Linked DNA regions of Homo sapiens: all the other regions are reported to be linked to region 1. Evidence: microRNA targets listed by miRTarBase, many of them from high-throughput screens and not tested one by one. Region 1 holds a microRNA gene; each other region holds the end of a gene's coding sequence. Distances are from middle to middle.

Region 1 (3,000 bases):
CCCTGCGCACTCCCCCTGTGTCTACCAACAAATTCTTCTTGGGCTTCAGAACCCTACCAAGAGTCTCCTCTTTATTTATTTATTTATGAATTATTTATTGAGACAGGGTCTCACTCTGTCGCCCAGGCTAGAGTACAGTGATGTGATTATGACTGCAGCCTCGATGTCCTGGGCTGAAGCGATCCTTCCATCTCAGTCCCCTGAGTAGGTGGGACTGTAGGCACACACCACCAAGCTCAGCTAATTTTAAAATTTTTTTTTAGAGATGGGACCTTGCTGTGTTGCCCAGGCTGGTCTTGAACTCCTGGACTCAAGTGATCTGCCTGCCTTGGCCTCCCAAAGTGCTGGCCTCCTTTTTAAAAAATTTTTGGGGCCTAGAGTGTGTTGTTGTCCCCCTAGACAGAATTAACTACCCGTATGTGTGGAAATCTTCCTTTGCCATTTCTCCTACATGTAGGGAAACCCTTGTCTGGGATTATGTCTTACTGACCTCTGCATCCTGGCCTGGTAGCTGGCACCACGTGTGTTAGAATGAACATGGTGTGGGATCGTCTATTTGACAGTGTGGGTTAAATCCTTGCAGTGCACTGAAGACTGCTCTAAGAGATACAAGACCGTGTCTCCTAAGAGCTGATGTTCCAATACCTGGGTGTATCACGCCAGCTCGGGCTGCCACATTTAGTACCACCTGCCAGGAGGCTTCCCCAGCAGAGACTGATTGTCTCCCAGTCCTGCACACTGGAAGACTGAGGTCAAAGCTGGTTCCCCCTGAGGCCTATCTCTTGGGCCTGTAGATGCCTTTTCTTCCCTGTATCCTCACAGGGTCTCCCCTCTGTGGGTGTCTGTGTCCTAGTCGCCCCTTCTTATGAGACTCAAGTTATTTTGGATTGCAGCCCACCCTAATGGCCTCATTTTACTATGATTTCCTCTTTAAAAGCCCTTTTTTCTAATAGTCAAGTTCTGAAGTCCTGAAGTTTCTGGCTTCAACATACGGATTTGGCGGGATGGACACAATTCGGGCCCTAACATGGAGTCAGATGCTATCACGTATCAGGCAGTGACACAGGAAGGACGCACGCCCAAGAGTGGGGCTGAGCAGGGAGCCTGCAGGGCAGGTGGAGCTGGGAGAGGAAGCAGTGCAACCACAGGGTTGGGCTCCAGCTGGGGTGGAGGTGCCCCTATGCTGAAGGCTGGGATGTGTGCCTGTCCTGTCCTTGGCACCCAGAGGCGCCCACTTGGGGCTCTGGGTGAGTGAGCCAACAGCCAGATGCCCTACATCCAAGTGTCAGGCAGAAGTGGGCCTTGGTCCGCAGGGCTGGGCTGCACCCCATTGGTGATGCCTCCTGGCACACATGTCAGAGCCTCTGTCCAGCATTCCTGTGTCTGAGCCTTGCTGCGGGTGGTTTATGGCCCCCTGTGTGTGTTTTTGCTGCCTGACGCTCAAATGTAGGAGAGGGGGACGGGGCGAGGCTCCAGGGGCGGGGAGGGGACTCCAGGAGCAAGCGATGGTCACTGACACCGAGTGTGCTGTTTCTCCTCCCCACATAGGACATCAAGGACGCCCTGCGCAGGTACGAACCCAGCCTCTCCTGGAGGGGGGGCAGGAGGGAGTGGGGTGGGACCCAGCTGTTGGCCATGGCGACAACACCTGGGTTGTCCCCTCTAGGGTCCAGGATGTGAAGCTGCAGCCCCCAGAAGTTGTGCCTATGGAGCTGAGGACCGTGTGCAGGGTCCCGGGACTGGTAGAGACACTGCGGAGGTTTCGAGGTAGGTGTGGAGGCCCCAGGTGGGGAGATGACTCCAGGAGGGGACCTGCCAAGGACCTGGGCAGCCAGCCACGTGTTCTGTGCCCTGCCACTGCCAGCTCCAAACTCACAGTGTCATGGTGGTGGGTTGTTGGGAAAACGTCCTCTGCTCATACTTCTGACATCAGTTGTGTGGGTATTTTCACACCAAACAATTCTTCAACTTCTGGAAACGAATTGGGTATCCAAGGATTCCATTCAGCATTGAACAGAATTGCCAGTGCTGACACTACAGGAGTTAGTACAGACCCCACAGATTAAGGGCTCAGTCCCATAAGACTGCCCCCACTTCAGATGCCAGTCACAACTTCCAGGGGCTGCCCATACTTCTGTTCCCTCAGCGCCTCTGCAGATGTGAGCATTCGCTAGCACAGCCCATGGAACTCAGAAGAGCACTTTACTTACTGTCATTGGTTTATTGTGAAGGATACCACTCAGGAAGAGCCAAATGGAAGAGACACATGGGCAAAGCCTGGGGAAGGGCTCAGAGCTTTCCCACCCTCCCTGGGTGCACCTTCCCAGCACCTCAGTGTGCTCACCAACCTGGAAACTCCCTGAGCCCCAAGAGCTGTTTAGGTGTCTTTGTGGAGGTTCCATTACATGGTTATGATTGATTAAATCATTGGTCATTGGTGATGGGGCTCAACCTCAGACCCCTTTCCCCTTCCTGAGGTCAGAGGCTGGGGCTGAGTGTTCCCGCCCTCTACTGACAGGATTGGTCTTTCTGGTGGCTGGCCTTATGCTGGGCTCTCAGGTCCCCACCTCAGCCACTGCAGTGGCATCAACTCAGGTGTGATGGAAAGGGGCATCTTATGATAGCACAAGATGCTTCTATCAGTCAGGAAATTCCCAGGGTTCTGTGAGCTCTGCGCCAGGAACTGGGCACAAAACCCAAATCTGAGTCTTGTATCACAGTCACCCAAAGGAAGTACTATCCTCAGCTCTTGCTAGCAGGTCAGGAGCCTGTTGTGTAGGAACTGTGTGCAGGCCTCCAGAGGTGGATAGATCTGAAATCGGAGTGGTCAGGGTTGGGACAGCTGCCCTAATTCACATCCTTCATTTGGAGATTGAAAGGAAAAACAGACTGGATGCATTGGCTCACCTCTGTAATCCCAGCACTTTGAGAGGCTCAGGCGGGAGGATTGCTTGAGGCCATCAGTTCAAGACCAACCCGGGAAACATAGCAAGACTCCCA
Region 2 (7,455 bases), not on the chromosome of region 1:
CCCAAAGCACTGGGATCACAGGCCGGAGCCACTGCACCCGGCTAAGACCTTGCTGCTTTTTTTTTCTTTTCTCTTTTTGGGACACAGTCTCATTCTGTCACCCAGGCTGGAGTGCAATGGCGCAATCTCAGCTCACTGCAACCTCCTCCTCCCGGGTTCAAGCGATTCTCCTTCCTCAGCCTCCCGAGTAGCTGGGATTAGAGGCACCCGCCACCACGCCTGGCTAATTTTTGCATTTTTAGTAGAGACGCGGGTTTCACCACGTTGGCCAGGCTGGTCTCGAACTCCTGACCTCAGGTGATCCACCTGCCTCGGCCTCACAAAGCGCTGGGATCACAGGCGGGAGCCACCGCACCCAGCCAGGCCTTGCTTCTTAGCACCCCACGTGGAAACACCAGACAACCCTACGGAGGCCACCCCCAGCCCGGCTTCTATGGGGGCCACCCCTATGCCGTCCCGCTGCCCACGTGGGCTCAGGCGCAGCTGAAGCTTTCACGCTCCTTGTTAAAAATCATAAAAACCAAAATAGTGGCAAAGGCCGAAGATGCCGCGAGTGCTGGGCTGGGGATCGGGACTCGGCACCTTCTGGGCGCTTCCGTCCAGGGGGTCACCATTCGGATCCCCCGGTAGAGATGGGGAAACTGAGGCTTGGAGCGGCCTAGCCGCGGAGCCGGGCATGCTGGGGTTTGGCCTTGGGTCCGTCACGTCCCGTTCACGCCGGGACGCGCCGCTCCGCCTCTCGGCCTCAGTTTCCCCCTCTGTCACCGGGAACAACAAGGGACCTGGGCCCGGCCCGGCCCGGCCCCCGGAAACGCGCACAAATACGGAACGCAGCGGCGCGGGGCTGGGCCGAGGCGGGAGCGCGGATGGGGCCGCGGGTCGGCGTCCTCACCAGTTCTTGACCAGCTCCCGGTAGCGTGGGCCCAGGAACCGGGTCACCATCGCGGCGGAGTCGCACCCTCAGGATGACCCTGTCCAGCTGACCCGGCTACACTGCGCAGGCGCGGCCGCGGCGCGCACGCGCGCGGGGAGGGCGGGGGGGGGGGGAGGAAAAAAAAACATCATCCGCCACTGTGCGCGCAGACCCGGAAGCCACTTACAGTAACTTCCGGCGAGGGTTGGACGACCGCGGAGAAGTGGTCCGGAGTGGGCGGCGTTAGGGCGGTGCTTTCTGGCCACGTGGTCTGGCGGCCGATTGTGCTTCTGGGCTCCGCGGGGCTACCTGCCAGTGATTTTGTGCGCCTAGTATGTGCCAGAACGTTATTTACAATGAAGGAAACTGAGGTCCAGCGGGGAAGGGTCTTGCTCAGAGTCACACAGAGGGGAAGAGCTGGGATTGGAGCCCACTTTTGGAGGCGTCAGGCGTTGTTCCTGATTCGCTGTAGGACTTTGGTCGAGCGGCAGTGCTTCCCTGAGCCTCAGCGTTGCCCGTTGCTTGGAGGCCCTGTCGGAAATCTCTTTGCAGGATTCCGTTTGCGAGCCTGGGTTATTCCTCATTCCGGCAGCAGAGGGTGGCCTGGCTCCTTGCTCGGTGAACGTCTCTGGATGCTCTTAGCTGATGACAGGCAGGTCTTTCTGCCTCCTGCTTTCCACCGCACCAGGCTCGCTTGGGCTCGCCTTTCTCCAGTCCCTGCTTCCTCTGCTCTCCCACAACCCGGCGCAGCACCGTACATGCTCACTCAGCTCCCAGCTTCCAGCCTCCCCCCTGCACACCGGGCCGGTGTGGGCAGAAGGAAGAGGGGCATATTCCCAGACACCGCCATTGCACTTTTGTGCCTTTTCCCCCATATTCAAGAGTTGCCTCCCTCAGGAAGCCCTCCTGGACTGCCTGACCCACAGGCACCTTTACAGCATGAACGGAAAGGCCATAGCCTAGACGGGGCACTGGGCGTGATTTGTCTCTCGGGCGCCAGCGTCACTTGCAGGCCTCGTGATAAGGAATGGACACCGTGGGTTCTTCTGCCCAGCCTGGCCTGTCCTCCTGGGGTCAGCCCCTCAGTACACCCCAAGCCTGCAGCTCTCTGGGGACTGCGGGTGCTAACCCATCCCTATCCCTGGTTAAGGACTCAGGGTGGGAGCCGGAAATAGGTTTTGGACACCACAGTCTGGGCACTGTTTTTCTTTCTTTTTTTTTTTGAGACGGAGTCTCGCTCTGTGGCCCAGGCTGGAGTGCAATGACACGATCTCGGCTCACTGCAACCTCCGCTTCCCGGGTTCAAGCTTCTCCTGCCTCAGCCTCCCAAGTAGCTGGGACTACAGGCGTGAGCCACCACACCTGGCTAGTTTTTGTATTTTTAGTAGAGATGGGGTTTGGCCATGTTGGCCAGGCTTGTCTTGAATTCCTGACCTCAAGTGATCCGCCTCCCAAAATGCTGGGATTACAGGTGTAAGCCACCGGGCCCGGCCCTGGGCATTGTTTGTAGAACTTTCCAGTTGGCTTGGGGTTTTTGAGCTTGGGATCAGAGAGCACCTGAATAAGACTCTTCCCATTGGTGGAAACTTAAAAAAGTGGGATGCAGGGGCTGACACAGAGACTATTAAGAGAAAGGACAGGAACACAAGGGCTGCTGGAATGTCAGCCCAGAGTTTCCAGATGCCACAATGTAAGAGTTCACCAGTGGCCGGGCACGGTGGCTCACGCCTATAATCCCAGCACTTTGGGAGGTTGAGGCGGGCAGATCACCTGAGACTGGGAGTTCGAGACCAGCGTGACCAACATGGAGAAACCCCATCTCTACTAAAAATACAAAATTAACCGGACATGGTGACGGATGCCTGTAATTCCAGCTACTCGGGAGGCTGAGGCAGGAAAATTGCTTGAAAACCCGGGAGGCAGAGGTTGCGGTGAGCCGAGATCACGCCATTGCACTGCAGCCTGGGCAACAAGAGTGAAACTCCGTCTCAAAACAAACAGACAAAAAAAAGAGTTCATCAGAGACAGTGACATAAACAAGAGCTGAGAGATGGAGAGAGATTTGTAATGACACCTGGATCCAGCTGTGCCTGAAGCCATTCAACATGACATAGAACTTCCTTTTTGTTTCTTGAGCCGGTTTTTGTTATTTTGTTGGACCATCTGGATGTCCCCTCCACCCTTTTTTTTTGAAACGGAGTCTTGCTGTCGCCCAGGCTGCAGGCTGGAGTGTAGTGGTATGATCTTGGCTCACTGCAAGCTCCGCCTCCCAGGTTCACGCCATTCTCCTGCCTCAGCCTACCGAGTAGCTGGGACTACAGGTGCCCGCCACCACGCCTGGCTAATTTTTTGTATTTTTAGTAGAGATGGGGTTTCACCGTTAGCCAGGATGGTCTCGATCTCCTGACCTCGTGATCCGCCCGCCTTGGCCTCCCAAAGTGCTGGGATTACAGGCATGAGCCACTGCACCTGGCCCACCCTTTTTTTTTGACAGGTTCTGGCTCTGTTGCCCAGGCTGGAGTGCAGTGGTGCAATCACAGTTCACTGCCACCTCAAGCGATCCTCCCACCTGAACCTCCTAAGTAGCTGGGACTACAAGTGTGTGTCACCAGGTACAACCAATTTAATTTTGATTTTTTGAGACAGTCTCGCTCTGTCGCCCAGGCTAGAGTGCAGTGGTGCAATCTCAGCTCACTGCAATCCCTGCCTCCTGGGTTCAAGCTATTCTCCTGCCTCAGCCTCCCAAATAGCTGGGATTACAGGCTTGCGCCACCATGCCCGGCTAATTTTTGTATTTTTAGTAGAGATGGGATTTCGCCATGTTGGCCAGGCCGGTCTCGAACTCCTGACCTCAAGTGATCCACCCGCCACAGCCTCCCAAAGTGCTGGGATGACAGGCGTTAGCCACCGCGCCCGGCCAATGTATATTTTAAAAGTTGTTTTCCAGCATGAATTTAGAGGCCAGCTGGGTAGAGTGGTGGACAGGGCTCCCTCAGCACCTTCTGTCAACTCCTGGCCACTCTCTTTCCCTTAAAAATTATAGACATGGGGTCTCACTATGTTGCCCAGGCTGGACTGGAACTCCTGGCCTCAGGCGATCCTCCCGCCTCAGCCACCTGAAGTGCTGGGATTACAGATATGAGTCACTGTGCTGAGCCTTCTCCTCCCTAAGGCACTTGTGTGCCAAAGGGCTCTCTCCTGGGGGCCACCCCCCGTCAAGTGGCCAGGAAGGCACTCCTTCCACCCCAACCCTGTAGGGGAGCAGGGCAGTCCAGCTGTGTCCTCGCAGAGATGCAGCGGCCAAGTCCCTGGGCACAGCAGCAGATGCCTGCCAGTGGGCACTTTGGGATGAGCAGCGCCCCCACAGGTCCTGCCACACCCCTTCCCCCCGAGAGCTCTGTCCGTGGGTTCCGTGGGCATCCGGTTGTGGAGGAAGTCACAGATGCCGCACTAAGGAGTGTGGGGTTGACGCTGCCAGCAACGGAGCCGTGGAAGGTTTCAGAGGAGCAGTGACAGACTCAGACTTCGAGCCGACTTCGGAGCAGGAAGGGGCAGGGAAGTGGGTTCCAACAGCCCGGGGGGGGGACGTTGGGAGATGGGGAGCCCTCCCAGATGGGGGCTGGGAGGACCGCAGGTCCTGGATGGTTCCTACGCGCCCAAGTGCAGCCCCCAGGGAGCTGCTTTTCCCCGGGAGCCAATCCTGCTTCCAGGTGGCCTGGAGCCCTGAGTACACATGCAGGTTCCCAGCCGCCCTGGGAGCCATGGGCTCCTCAGAGTGAGGAGTCGCTTCGAGGAAGCCCAGTGCACAGGGTGGACCACGGTCCTTGCTGCACCCGAGGTGAACGTCAGGGCCCCCCCCCACTTCCCTTCCTAAACATGTGACACCAGAAAGAACCCGGGGACTGCAGGGCATCGTTATAAAATGTCACGTTTATTGCTACAGTGCTGTTATATACAGGACAGGTCTCTGAATCCACCTGAAAGAGGGTCGTTTTAAAGTCCCAATCATCCAGCCAGCTGTGTTGACACGTATACAATTATTTTCTTTAAAAAAATTTTTTTGAAAACCATCTTGAGGCACTCAGATCACACCCCCCACCCCCCATAATTGTGGTTCCCAGGAACTGCTGTTTCTTCCTCCTCGCGCTGGGTGAATCTCGTTTGAATTCTATGCAGAACGCACAGTTCCAGAGGCTATGGGGCCACTGCCCACCCAGACCTAGGGGCAGGGCCAGGAGCAAAACAAGAGGGAGAGGCAAGTTCCCTTAAGAGATCAAACTCCCAGGGCGTAGGGGAAGCCACCGAGAAGGGAGAGGCAGCCGGACAGCCCCTCCCCTCCGCCTGGCCTGGACTGGGGGCAGATACCAGGCATTGAGCTGGCCTTGAGGTTTCCCTTGCATCTACCATGGGGCCCAGGCTCCCAAGCCAGTCTGGGGAGGGGAGTCAGGCAGTCCAGGATCTCCTGGGGGTAACGGTGGGAGTCTCAGGAGTGGCACGGGGGGAGACGCCCGACCTGCAGCGGGGATGAACACAGCCAGCCCAGGGGTCCACAAGGCCTCAATGCAGGGAGGGGCATGAAGGGCACATGAAGGCCCCCAGCTAGCCAGGCCCACACCTGGGTGCCACAGTGACCACTGCCCTAGTTCGTGTGGAACTGGATGGGATCCCAGGGTAGGAGACTTGCAGTTTTAAACCCAAGACAGTCCCCAGCCAGCTGGGAAGAGCTGGTTACCCTCATGGCAAAAGACCAGAAAAGGAGACCTGGAGAGAGGCCTGGGTGCTGGGACATGGGACACAGATGGGCCCGAGGGGACACCCTGCTGGTTCTGCAGCAGGGTCGGACGCACAGCCCAAGGCCTTCGTGGGGCTCAGACCAGCACAGTCCCCCGGCTCCAGCCACTCTTGCCCTTGGACCACACAGAGGGAGGGCAGCAGGTGTGGCCCCAGGCCCAGGGATGCTCCCCAGCATTGGGGGAGGCTGGCCAGGCCCCTGGCATCCTGTCTACGTCACGATGGCCCTCTGGTGTAATGGGGACATGGTGGGGTGGGGTGGGGGGTGTCCTGTGCTGGCTCCTGAGCAGCATCCTCTCAGCCAGAGTTCAGAGCATGAGCCTGGGTCCCTGGGGCAAAGGAGTGAAGGACAGGGTGTCCAGGAGGTCCCCAGCACCGGGCTCCAGGGTGTGGTCCCCATGCCAGGGGTCACTGGTCCCAACAAAATGCCCCATTTCAGAGAGCTGTGCAGGTTCCAAGGGAGAGCAGCTTAGGGGGGCCTGGGGAGGGCGTTGTGTAGGGTAGCCCTGGGGGCCACAGCTGCTTGGCAGAGTCACCTGGGAGGGTCAGAGCCACCTTGCTGACGTCCCTTCCCCCAAGCCCAGGTCAGTCCCCTTCCTGAGGGGAGAGGATGCGGCAGGGAAGCCCCAAGGTGCCTTCATCAGGGAACGCCCACGCATCACTTTCCACATGACAAAACCAAGAGAACCCCCAACATCAAAAAAACAAAAGACCCGCCGCCTGTCCCCGTTCTGTCTGTGTGCAGTGGCTTCCGGGGGGGGGGGGGGACGGGGGGGCTCAGGTTTACACGGGGTCTTTTTAATACAACGTTTAATCATCTGGTTGATCAAGAAATGCAATGCTCAGTCTAGGAACAGCAGCAGAAATAGCGAGAGACACGGGACTTTTATACAAAAAAATTTGTTGCTTACAAAACATATGCAAAAAAAGCTTAAAAAAACCAGAGACCAAAGGCAGCATCCTTGCTAATTTTCATCTACATTAAGAAAAAAAAAATCTTGTAACTAATGTTTTTATTTTCCTTAAAAAAAATATTTCGCTTAGGCACAATTTGCTGGTGGCTTTAGAAGAATAAGCCAGGTTTCCACAGCATCCCCCTTGAGTGATATGTTTCCATTTCTCCGCTTTTTATAGTTAAGGCATTTTTTTCTTCTCTGACAAAGTGTATGTTTTGTTGCTTGCTTTCAGGTTTTGTTTACTGGAAAAAAAAAAAATGCTCCTGTCAGCCCAGGCAACAGGGCCAAGATGCAGTTTCAGGATCCATGGGACAGGTCACAGAGTGACACGGTGGCTGAGATTCGGGGACAGGGGGAGCGAGGCCAGTGAGTGGTAGGCCAGGGCCCCAGGGAGCTCCTGGACCCAGTGTCACCTTGGCCGCCCCCATCACTCCGAACCTTGTCAGGTTGGTGTTGGCTCGATGCTGACAACAGGTGTGTGAGGTGTGGATGTGGATGAAGCCCGGGGTCTCGAGTGGCCGTTCTGGGGCCAGAGCACAGGGCTGAAAGCGGGTGGCTCGTCCCACGGAGGCATACCTTTCACATGTGCCCGGCGGGGTTGTGGGCTTCGCTCAGGCCTGGGTGGGGAGCTGAAAGCACCATCTGGGGGTCTCCAACCACACCTGACACCTTTTCCTCTTCTCGCCGTTTCAAACAGGCTGCTTTGGGATTCAGGTTCCGCTCTGGAGGGAGGGGGGAGAGCTCTGTGGGAGACGGTCCCAGGGAGGAGAAAGATGTGAGGTGGGAGTGGGGGGT
Region 3 (7,612 bases), not on the chromosome of region 1:
GAAGGAGATGAGGCTGTTTGCTCTTCCTTGGCCAGCATCCAGCCCCGTCCCCCAACTGTTGTGGCCAAAATTCTGACCACCCACGACACAGGGCCTGCTGTGTGCACCCCACTGGCCCAGGGCGGGCCTTGCCGGCGGCAGGCGAGGAGTCCAGCCCCTCCTGGTGTCGGTCAGGTGAACTCACAAACAGGAAGGCACGTTGCACAGCACGAACCTTCAGATCTGCCAGGCGGTGCCTGCGATCCGGCTGCTGGCAGCACAGCTTTGCAGAGAAGCTGCTGGGAAGGGTCCGTGTTCAGCCCAGCAGTCAGGGTGCTCAGTGGCCCCTATGCTGTGAGGCACCTTAAACAAACAGCAGAGGGAGACCCGCAAAGTGCAAAGAAGGGGCAGCAGCCTCCAGAAGGCAGGGCTGATGGATCCGGAACCAGAGCTCTGAGCTTCCCAGCAGCCGAGTCAGAAAGGGAAATGGGGTGGGTACTGCTGAGTCCTCACCGACCATTAGTGGGAAAAGGTCTTGAAGACCTGGGCCTCCCTTCGACAGCACAGATGCTCCCCTGACACCGGCTGGGGAGTGCTCTCCTGTCAGGGGTTCCCACCTCTGTGGATCGTAAGGTGCCAAGCTCCTCAGGGCTCCCTGGCGAAAGATGCCGAAGGGTGGCGCAGAGAAGTCACCTGGAATGTGGCTCAGAGAACCACGCAATGCCCTGGGGTCTCCCTACCCCGTGCAGGTCAGTGAGGGCACCCGCCCATGCAACCCCAGGGGCCAGCCACGTCGGGCCACATGTGCTGGGGCTGTGTGTGCCAGAGAACGGGCTGTGAGTCCCTGTCTCAGCTGGCGCTTGTGCGGGACTCCTGAGCCAGGAAGCCTCCGGCTAAGGAAGCCCCGCCTTAGCCTGGAGACGACCCTCACGTCCGTCCCTCACGTCTGTCCCTCGGCAAGTGCTCCTCACTGTGGAGAGGGCAGCTGCTGACCTGCAGCAAGCCAGGTGGCGGATCAAGATTTGTGCCAAGTGAGGGGCCAAACTTAGCGTGGGCATGCGTGCTTTTCTCTTTACATGTGTCCAAGGCCATAAGCGATGGGCTGTGACAAAGCACATCTGGGCTGAGCTCAGGGAGAAATGTCCCCTGCAGTAGATATGCAAGTGTGTGCAGGTGTCAGAAACACCAAGCCACACACTGATAACTCATGCCGGGTGCGGCGGCTCACACCTGTAACTCAGCACTTTGGGAGGCAGAGGCGGGAGGATCGCTTGAGCTCAGGAGTTTGAGACCAGCCTGGGCAACATGGCTAAACTGCCCCCCAACAAAAAATAAAAAATCCGGGGATGGTGGCATGTGTCTGAAGTCACAGCTACTCGGGAGGCTGAGGTGGGAGGATGGCTTGAGCTCGGGAGGTCAAGGCTGCAGTGAGCAGTGATTACACCACAGCAAGAGCCGGCATCTAAAAAAAATTTAGTGCGGTGAGCACTAAATTTAGTGGCTCACGCCTGTAATCCCAACACTTTGGGGGGGGCCAAGGTGGGCGGATCATGAGGTCAGGAGTTCGAGACCAGCCTGACCAACCTGGTGAAAGCCCATCTCTACTAAAAATACAAAAATTAGCTGGGTGTGGTGGTGGGCGCCTGTAGTGATCCCAGCTACTCAGGAGGCTGAGTCAGGAGAATCGCTTGAACACGGGAGGCAGAGGTTGCAGTGAGCCGAGATCGTGCCATTGCACTCCAGCCTGGGTGACAGAGCGAGACTCTGTCTGAAAAAATAAATACATAAAAATAAAAGTAATGTTTTTAAATAATCAAAGGGAGCATTGTTTGGAAGTCAGAATCACATTGCCTGTGGGGGTGAGCAGACCTGTGGAGACTGGGCTTTCCAGGCCAAAGGGCCCTCCCTGACATTGGGGGTGCGAACACGCAGAGCAGGCTGGAGACCTCTCACAGCACTGTGCGGCTTCCGGAAACCGTCCCCTGCCCCAGCCCACCCAGCCCTCTGAGGAAGCGGCCTCTGAGCAGTTTCTTGCAGGATTGATGTCTGAGAAACAGCTCACACCAAGTGCCGTCTGCTCACTCCACCAAGAGTGACACAGGTTCGGCCGCTGAATCACCCTCAGAGCACTGTCCTCCCTCCAAGCCCCCAAGAGAGTGGCATCTTTTTAGAGACAGGGTCCCGCTCTGTCGTCCAGGCTGGAGTGCGGTGGCATGAGCTCTGCTCGCTGCCACCTCCACCCCCCTGGGCTCAGGCGATTCTCCTCCCTCAGCCTCCTGAGTAGCTGGGAACACAGTTGCTACCACTACACCCGGCTAATTGTTGTATTTTTTGTAGAAGCGGGGGGCCTCACTGTGTTGCCCAGGCTGGTCCCAAACTCCTGGGCTCAAGCGATCCTCCCACCCCGGCCTCCCACCGTGCCTGGGATTTATTTCTGGATGACTCGGTGCCCAGTGTTCACATCCCAGAGCCTCAAGCTGACCTTCCAGCCCGGGCCGGCGCTGTCCGCTCCCCACTCCTCTCCCTGGAGCGCTGGCAGCCTCCAGCTGGGCTCTTTCTCTGCCTGCCTGTCCCTGCCTGTCCCTGCACAGATCAGGTGGCGCCACCTGCCGTCCGTCCAGTCCCTCGGCTCTTGCTCCAGTCACAGTCAGGCCCTGGCCGGGCGCCGTGTGCCATGCGCCCTCCAGTGGCTCCCAGGGAACGGGCGCTCTCTCCACGCGCTCCAGCTGCCGTCCCCCTGCCCTGTCTGGGTCAGGCCACCCCCCGCCCACTGGGACCTCAGAAGCACTCGTACCCCTGCTGGCTGCGTGGGTTTCACAGGCGATAAAGCTGAGTGCAGCCTCAAACCCTGAATAGTCATCAAAGTTAGGATCCTACAGACTCCTCCAAGCCTCACCTCATCACCCCTGTGGCCCAGCAGTCCAGAGCCATGGGCCACCCCCTCCCCCGCTTGTTATGCAGCAGGAGCTACCCGATGCACTCTGACCTCAGACACCCTAGGACTTTGCTTAGATTTCACAAGGGACTGAGTCCAGGCAGGAGGGGTGGGGAATTTGGCCAGCGATGGGCCTGCCTCGGGGCATTTGTGAGACCTGCCCGGAGAGACAGCTGGGCGCTAGGCTGAGCTGTCCAAGTCCCACTGCCCTCTGAAGCCTGGTGAGCCCACCCAGCCCTCCAGTGTCTTACCTCCTTCCCCCTCAGCATCCAAGGTGGGAAGAAGACCCCCGCTCTGAGGGAGCCCCAGCAATCACGGGGAGGGCCCAGGTCCCAGAGTGAGGCCGGCTTCCAGCCTCTGGGTTCCAGAAGTTTCCTAATGGGGGCTGCCCACTCCGAGGGAGGAGCTTCAGGACATCTGAACCAGGACCCCCGCACTGGACAAGGCCCCAGGCCCCTACATGTGTGTTCCCTGTGGGTGTGGTTGAGCGGTGGCGTGGCAGCTCCCTTGGGTCACTTGGGTTCCATTAAACGGCGTCTCCGTGGGTAAAGCTTGGTCTCCTCCTAAGCCCGGCCAGCCCGGCACTCAGATGGCCTCACCCTCCGAGCTTACTGTGGGGGGGCCTCACCCTCCGAGCTTGCTGCGGGAGGTTTGCAGATGGCTCGGGGACTGTGTGGTTTTGTTTTGCCTTGACTTAGGATGGTAATGGGAGGCACGTGCAGCACGGCTGAGGGCCAGCCTCAGACCCAGAAGCAGATCTGGGGCCAAGAGCAGCCTGCCCACCCCAGGAGGGTCCTTCCCTGGAGACCTAGAGGCGGGGGGGTACAGGGGCCGGGGTCGGCGTCCCTCCTGCTGCTGAGGACAGACGTCCGGGGAGCAGTTCAGCCACGTCGTGAGCCATGGGGTTCGGGGTGTCTGCCTCTCCCATGACATCTGGGCACCATGGGGTGGATGTCCACAGAGGCATCTCCCGAAATCCATGCGTGAGGAAGCTGGGCTCGCGGGCTGCCTGCTGCCTGAGTTCTCTGGGACCCTTGAAAAGGACCCATTGGCAGGTGCGTGGATAAAGCAGGACAAATCCACCACTCCCCACTCACTCGAGGTCCCCAGAGCCCTCACACCCACAGACCAGGAAGGAGAAGGACTGGGGAGGGACTCGGAGTGGGTGTTTAACGCAAGCAGGGCTTCAGCCCGGGAAGATGAGGAGGCTCTGGAGGTGACAGTGGTGGCCGTGAATGTGCCTGTGCCCCTGAACTGTGCACTTCAACATGGCTGATGGTGAATTTTCTCTACGTGTATTTTATCACCATTTTTAAAAATAGCAACAAAGAAACACTTGGAAATGAGGCGTAGACAGTGGCCTGTCCCATCCGTGCCAAGCCCCGGCATTTCCCAGCAAGCCCCCGGGACGTGCCTGTGCACCTGGCCGGCAGCCTGAGTGCAGCTGTGAGAAACGGGCACCCAGGTCTGCCCGGTCGAGAAGGTGGCACCTCCGGGGTTCGGGTCTCACTCGGCCCCCCCCTTCCCTCCTGCCCGCCCCACACCCCTGCCCACGCCCATGGGCATGAGTTAAAGGAGATTTGATACCTGCTTACTCTGTTTTCACTAAGCTAGGCTTGTTTACACTTGAGGATGAGGCATTTGGACCGCCTAACTTGGGGGGCCCTGGCTGTACCCCGTGGAGGAGCCCTGTCATCTCGCTGGGTGAGATGGGGTGAGAGGTCGCGTGAGTCGGGCGAGCGGGGTCAGGGTTGGGGTTGGGGTTATGTTTATTGTCTTAGTGCTTTGAGGGGAAGCTCAGCCGTCACTCATCACCCTGTACTTGGTGTCCCTCATGTCGGCTGGGCCTCCATGAAGCGGGGCGGGACAGGGTCAGCGTTTCCTCCCCACGTGGGCCTCGGGCTCCCCTGGGCCCAAGGAGATGAATACCCCAGGCCAATGTAAGGCGGGGGCCCGAGGGTCCCCTGCAGGGCCGGGAGGGCGGGGCCTGAGTCCTTCACCCCACCCAGGAGGCCGACTAAGTTGGGGGCACAAGGGTCCCCTGTAGGGTTGGGAGGGCTGGGCCTGAGTCCTCCACCCCACCCGGGAGCCCTGACAACAGCTGGGAGGGATTTTCCACAGCCCCTGCCCTGGAATGTTCCGCACCCTCCAGAGCTCCAGAGGGGCTCACCAGTCACACTGGGCGGGGCGTCGCGTGGCCCCACCTGGCGCCAGGACCCCGTTCTTTCTGCCCTTCAAGTTTTCAGTGTCATATTTCAAATGTCTGAGGGGAGAATAGTGAAGCCAGCACTCGCTCCCTGCTCTTCCCCAGAAATAGGTGAGCGGACGCAGCCGAGCCTCCATCCCTCCGTCCCCTTCTCGTCCTTGCAGCAGCCTCCGTAGCAGCAGCCCCACCCATGACTTAGGGACCCTGCGGCCCCACCTGGGAGTGTGAGGCCTGCCGTGCACCCGTGTGTCCCGGCCACCACGTCCTGGCCTTGGGGCGCCGCTTCACGTGGCGCAGGTGGGAATGTGCCACGGCTTATCCTCTCTTCTCGGTGAGGGGCCGCCTGCCGCTCACGTGCATGGTCAGCGCTGGGACGGGGGCCAGGGCCGTCTCAGACAGCAGGTGTCCCATCACACCGCCCCCAGCACACGCGCCACTGTCACACTGCCGACCACACCGCCCCCAGCACACGCGCCACTGTCACACTGCCGACCACACCACCCCCAGCACACGCGCCACTGTCACACTGCCGACCACACCGCCCCCAGCACACGCGCCACTGTCACACTGCCGACCACACCACCCCCAGCACACGCGCCACTGTCACACTGCCGACCACACCGCCCCCAGCACACGCGCCACTCACACTGCCGACCACACCGCCCCCAGCACACGCGCCACTCACACTGCCGACCACACCGCCCCCAGCACACGCGCCACTCACACTGCCGACCACACCGCCCCCAGCACACGCGCCACTCACACTGCCGACCACACCGCCCCCAGCACACGCGCCACTCACACTGCCGACCACACCGCCCCCAGCACACGCGCCACTCACACTGCCGACCACGCCACCACCAGCACAGGTGCCACTCACACTGCCGACCACACCGCCACCAGCACACGCGCCACTCACACTGCCGACCACACCGCCCCCAGCACACGTGCCACTGTCACACTGCCGACCACACCGCCCCCAGCACATGTGCCACTGTGTGGCTCGACATTTCCTTCTGTTTGTTTGAGATGGAATCTCGCTCTGTCACCCAGGCTGGAGTGCAGTGGTGCGAACTCGGCTCACTGCAACCTCTGCCTCCCAGTTCAAGCGATTCTCCTGTCTCAGCCTCCTGAGTAGCTGGGATTACAGGCACGTGCCACCATGCTCGGTTAATTTTTTTGTATTTTTAGTAGAGACAGGGTTTCACCATGTTGGGCAGGCTGGTCTCGAACTCCTGACCTCGTGATTCGCCTGCCTCGGCCTCCCAAAGTGCTGGGATTACAGGCATGAGCCACCGCACCGGGTCAGTGTTTCCATTTTTGCCACTGCAGTGCTGCTTGTCTTCAGGGGCTGAGGTGCCCTCCCCCCGCCCCAAGGAAGCCTCTGGCGCCAGTGCCTGTCTCTGAAGGAGAATGTGGGCCTTGCCTCCCTGCACCAGTCATACGCATGGCCCCAGTGGCTTGGCTCAGAGTCTGGCACTGCAGGCCGACTGCCTCCAGGCACAGCTGCAGGAAGTGTTCCAGGAGCGGGAATGGAGTGGGGTCTGCAGGAGTCCCAGGACCTGGGGGGTGCAGGGCTCGCACGCTGAGGACACCCACCTGCGCCTGTCTCTGGCTGGATGCAGCCACCCGTTGTCTCCCTGCAGCCCCAGCTGTAGGTGCTGGGGGGCCCTGGGGGGAGCTAGGTGGGTGGGAGTGCAGCTTCAGGGGTGGGAGAGTGGGCGGGGCCCTGGAGGCGCTCCTGGGGGCTGGCAGGGACTGAGCTGCAGACAGCATCAGAGGGGTGGGGGTCCCACAGGGTCGGGCAGGGGTAGTCCTGGGTGTAACCGGAAGCAGTTGCTGACCCTGTGGGGGTGGGGGTGAGGGTGGGAGTCCTCAGGGCCCTCCCAGAGCAGTCCGAGCTGTGGGGTGGGAGGAGAGAGGGTGGGAGGACCCAGGGCTGGGAGGGGAGTGGTCAGGAGGACCTGGGGGCTGGGGGAGCTCCTAGGGCCTGGGCACCGCACACAGGGCCTGGGCCCTCGGCCTCATGGTAAAAGCCCGGGCGGGCGTGGTGTCCAGGGAGGCCGGACTGACGCCAGGCGGGGGCAGCAGGCGGTACCTCTGCAGGAGGCCGGCAAACAGCAGGAAGAGCTCGGTCCTGGCCAGGCGCTCCCCAACACAGACGCGGCGGCCTGCGGGGGATGTCCAGGCACAGAGTGGGCTGCACCAGGCCTGCTCCTGGAGGGGAGGGGTGGGGACCTCCCCAGGGGAGCACAGGAGCAGCCACCACAGCCGCCTTCAGAACCTGAGATCAGGAGGTGGGTGCAGAGGCGGCAGGCGGAGCTGGGGCCGTCCCACCCCTGGAGCCCTGGAGGTGCCGCCCCACCCCGGCCCCGAGGGCTGCTGACCTGCAGAGAAAGGCAGGAAGGCCTCCCGCTTCACAAAGTGCCCATTCGCGTCCAGGAAATGGCCGGGGTTGAACTGGCCTGGGGTCTGCCACTGTGTCTCATCCA
Region 4 (3,000 bases), 26 Mb from region 1:
CTGTGGCTGACCCACATTACACGTGGGGAGAAGTGGTAGTAGAGGTAGGTAAGGCAGAGTGGGCCCAGAGCTCCATGGCTTTAATGTCATGCTAAGGAATTTAACATTAATAACATGAACAATGGGAATCTGTGGAATTTTAGGCCAGAAATAACTGTTCGATATTTACTGTCTGCTGTATGTTAAGCACTGTAATGATCCTATCTGTGCTTCAGAAAGATAACCTATGAATAAATAGAGGGGCTAGATTGAAGAGAGGAAAAAGAGTAGAGGTAAGGTATCAGGTAGCTATTACCTCATCAGTCTAGCTCAGAAAGGCCCTGAAGCTAGCAGAGGGAACAAAGATATGGGAATGGACTTGAAACAATTAAAATTGTACAGAACTTAGAAACTAGCTGGATGTCTGTATTGTGATGGGGGTGACACAAAGCAACTGCTGGTTTTCCCAGGTTAGATAACTAAGTAGCTGGTTGCCAGTTATGGGAGCTTAAAAAAATAAGATGAACCACCAAATTAGGGGTATCTCTGTGTATGTATGTGAGCACATGAAAGTGTGTACGATTGTGAAGAGTGAAAAAGGAGCTGTTTTACGTGTTGATTTTTCTGTAGAACATACCATTGTGGCTTCAGTGTATGAACTATTTGTGAAGTTGGTCTGAAACTCATTAGTCAGCACTGAAGACAGCATAGGAGCCATCAGTCCTTCACCCTCCCCTGGATCTCTTCCTGAGATAGGAAAAGTCACGTTTTATAGGCTTTGGTTTAATTAGCATGCACAATCCATCTGCCAAAGTTGGTAGGCATCTTTTAAGGAAAATAACTTCCTCATGTGGCTCCTCCTTCCTTTTGCTCTGGAAGCATCAGGACTGTTTCAGTTTTGCAGGCCTTCCGCATAGCTGTTTATATCACATGCCACAATTCAAAGCAAATGGAAAAAAGGACTGGTGTGACTGAAACCCTGAAATTCAAGCGCGTGCTAAGTGAATTCAAGATCTTTTCTGTATTCCTTTTTCAAGTAACTCCAAGCGTCAGAGGGGCTAATGAATATGGCAAATCAGGTAAATATTTTACTGATGAGAATCTCCAAAGTGTAAAGTGGCTACCTCTTACCTGTGTCTAACATAGAAATAGCGGAACTAGTTGGCAAACACACAAGATGAACAGCTTGAAGAGACAGGAGCTACGGCTGATCCCTACATCTTTCCCTCCCAAATATCTACTAAAGGCAATGTTGGTTAGCCACAAACTCTCGGCATTTGAGACCGTTGATTTTTAATATTTTCTTAAAAAAATACAAAGGAAATTAACTCTGTAGGTCAATACAACTCAGGGAAAGAGGGAAAAATGGAATTTCAGAGCAAAGGTTGTTTAGGTTATCACATTCCCACACTCCTAATACCCACAAAACAAGAATTTCACTCCATGACACAGAGGAACATTGAATGGTAGCTCAGAAATGTTGATAGCTGAGGTACTGAAACTAACAAAAGGATTTTGGTTGTCCTTGATTATTCTGTCCTGTGATGAATAAAATCTACACTAAAGGACAGGTAAGGAAAACTTATAGCAGAAAAAAGACTAGATGTACCAAACACAGCAGTACAAACCACTCCTTGGCAGACATGTGCTTCTAAAAGAATGGGGCAGTAATCAGGTAGCTGAACTACTAGGCTACTGTCACTCCCAGCCCATCCCCAAATAAATAGTGTGGAAGTGTAATAGTGTAGTAGTATTTGATCCAACAAAGAAAGGCTTTCACCCCCATTCAAGGCAAACATTGCCATGGCTAGATGAGCCCTGGCAGGTAATAAGATGACTGTAAAATCACAGGTTCTTCTAGTTTATCCCCAGTTATACTGAACTCCCACATTGATGTCATCTTCTCTCATCCCAACATTTGTTCACTCTTTTATGCTGTCTCCAGTGCGAAAGACCTCGGGGAAATAAAAAGATCCTTCAAATAATATACCCTTCTCAGTCTTCCAGGTTATGTAATACTTCAGTGCTGTTCTAGGTTCACTCACAATCAAATTCAGTTTAATTCACTTAATTCTAACTTCAATTCTGATATACAAATCCTGACCTCCAAAAGAAGTGTCAGATGAGTCTCTCTCTCCCTTGTCCCCAAAGTTTTGTGGGGCTCTCCCTTTTGTTTCCCTCTAGAATGGAACTGTGTTGCCCCTAGCTACCTGTATATGAGAAAATGTAGTTGTTCCTGGAAAAAAAAAAAAAGACTTGGATTTTACCAAGTTTACTTAAACTGGTATCTTTCCAATCATCTAGGCTGGATATTGCCCATATCTAGTAGGCTATACTCACCTTAGTTCTTTGCAACATATGAGGCACAACATACATATAGTACACCAAGCATGTGGTAAGTTAGAAATGACAGGAAAGTGCTCCCCAAAGCAGTGGGAGAGGCAATGTGGTCTCTCACATCCATTCAATGTGCATTCTTTTTCCTGGAATATCTGTTACCCACCCTTCTCAGGAACAAGAACCAGGACGACGGGGAGTATGTGTCAAATAAGTACAATCATCACTGCACTGGTGCCTGTAATCACCCGGTGCACATAGTGAGAAACAGACATTCTGGAAAGGATTTTTGATTCTCCCACTAACTGTCCACTGGACTGGTCACTAGCTCTGGATGGTGCTCCAACAATGGTCACTTCTCGCGGAGAACACAAACACCAGCATCACAGCGCTGGGTTCCCATGGATGTCACGACTTCCCAGCTGTCGATGATAGGGTCATAACATTCAATGCTACTTAGCAGGGAATTACCATCATATCTGAGTGGGAAAGAAGCAAAAGAAAGAAATGAGTCAGCTGCGTGCAGTGGCACGTGCCTGTAATCCCAACTATGCAGGAGGCTGAGGTAAGAGGATTGCTTAAGCCCAGGAGGGAATTTGAGACCAGCCTGGGCAACATGGTGAGACCCTGTCTCAATAAAATTTAAAGAAAGAAAGAAAGAAATTAGCCTTCTATTCCTTTCCA

The links. The annotated mature microRNA hsa-miR-6742-5p reads AGUGGGGUGGGACCCAGCUGUU and lies in region 1 at 1,610-1,631, shown strand. An mRNA with a match to its seed (bases 2 to 7 or 8) in the 3' UTR can be bound and repressed. Matches are read on the target gene's strand: a 7mer-m8 pairs with bases 2 to 8, a 7mer-A1 pairs with bases 2 to 7 and ends in A, and an 8mer does both.
Region 2: miRTarBase lists TCF3 as a target of hsa-miR-6742-5p. Seed matches in the 3' UTR shown: 7mer-m8 at 5,958-5,964 and 7mer-m8 at 5,953-5,959.
Region 3: the mRNA of CYP2W1 is a reported target of hsa-miR-6742-5p. Seed matches in the 3' UTR shown: 8mer at 7,023-7,030, 7mer-A1 at 6,967-6,973 and 7mer-m8 at 6,658-6,664.
Region 4: miRTarBase lists KLHL12 as a target of hsa-miR-6742-5p. Seed matches in the 3' UTR shown: 7mer-A1 at 2,134-2,140.

What each region holds. Positions count from the first base shown.
Region 1 is chr1:228,395,714-228,398,713 of GRCh38, reverse strand. MIR6742 (microRNA 6742) reads left to right here and starts at 1,605; the gene lies at 1,605-1,666. It overlaps TRIM11 (tripartite motif containing 11), which reads left to right. Exons shown (of 6, transcript NM_145214.3): 4 at 1,549-1,571; 5 at 1,667-1,767. It overlaps TRIM11-AS1 (TRIM11 antisense RNA 1), which reads right to left. Exons shown (of 3, transcript NR_199157.1): 2 at 2,908-3,000; 3 at 1,747-1,971.
Region 2 is chr19:1,604,468-1,611,922 of GRCh38, forward strand. It overlaps TCF3 (transcription factor 3), which reads right to left. Exons shown (of 19, transcript NM_003200.5): 19 at 4,825-7,382. The coding sequence ends at 7,240. It overlaps UQCR11 (ubiquinol-cytochrome c reductase, complex III subunit XI), which reads right to left and starts at 995. Exons shown (of 3, transcript NM_006830.4): 1 at 893-995. The coding sequence starts at 942. RefSeq lists silencers at 746-815, 866-1,125 and enhancers at 1,186-1,495, 1,951-2,572, 4,055-4,104, 4,135-4,204.
Region 3 is chr7:988,314-995,925 of GRCh38, reverse strand. CYP2W1 (cytochrome P450 family 2 subfamily W member 1) reads right to left here. Exons shown (of 9, transcript NM_017781.3): 8 at 7,508-7,612; 9 at 6,286-7,291. The coding sequence ends at 7,104. It also overlaps a transcript of CHLSN not described here. Among named protein-coding and RNA genes, the nearest start is that of CYP2W1, 8.9 kb to the right of the region's middle. RefSeq lists enhancers at 185-234, 6,559-7,159 and silencers at 2,770-2,859, 7,469-7,538.
Region 4 is chr1:202,889,865-202,892,864 of GRCh38, forward strand. It overlaps KLHL12 (kelch like family member 12), which reads right to left. Exons shown (of 12, transcript NM_021633.4): 12 at 1,256-2,795. The coding sequence ends at 2,669. Among named protein-coding and RNA genes, the nearest start is that of RABIF, 2.2 kb to the left of the region's middle.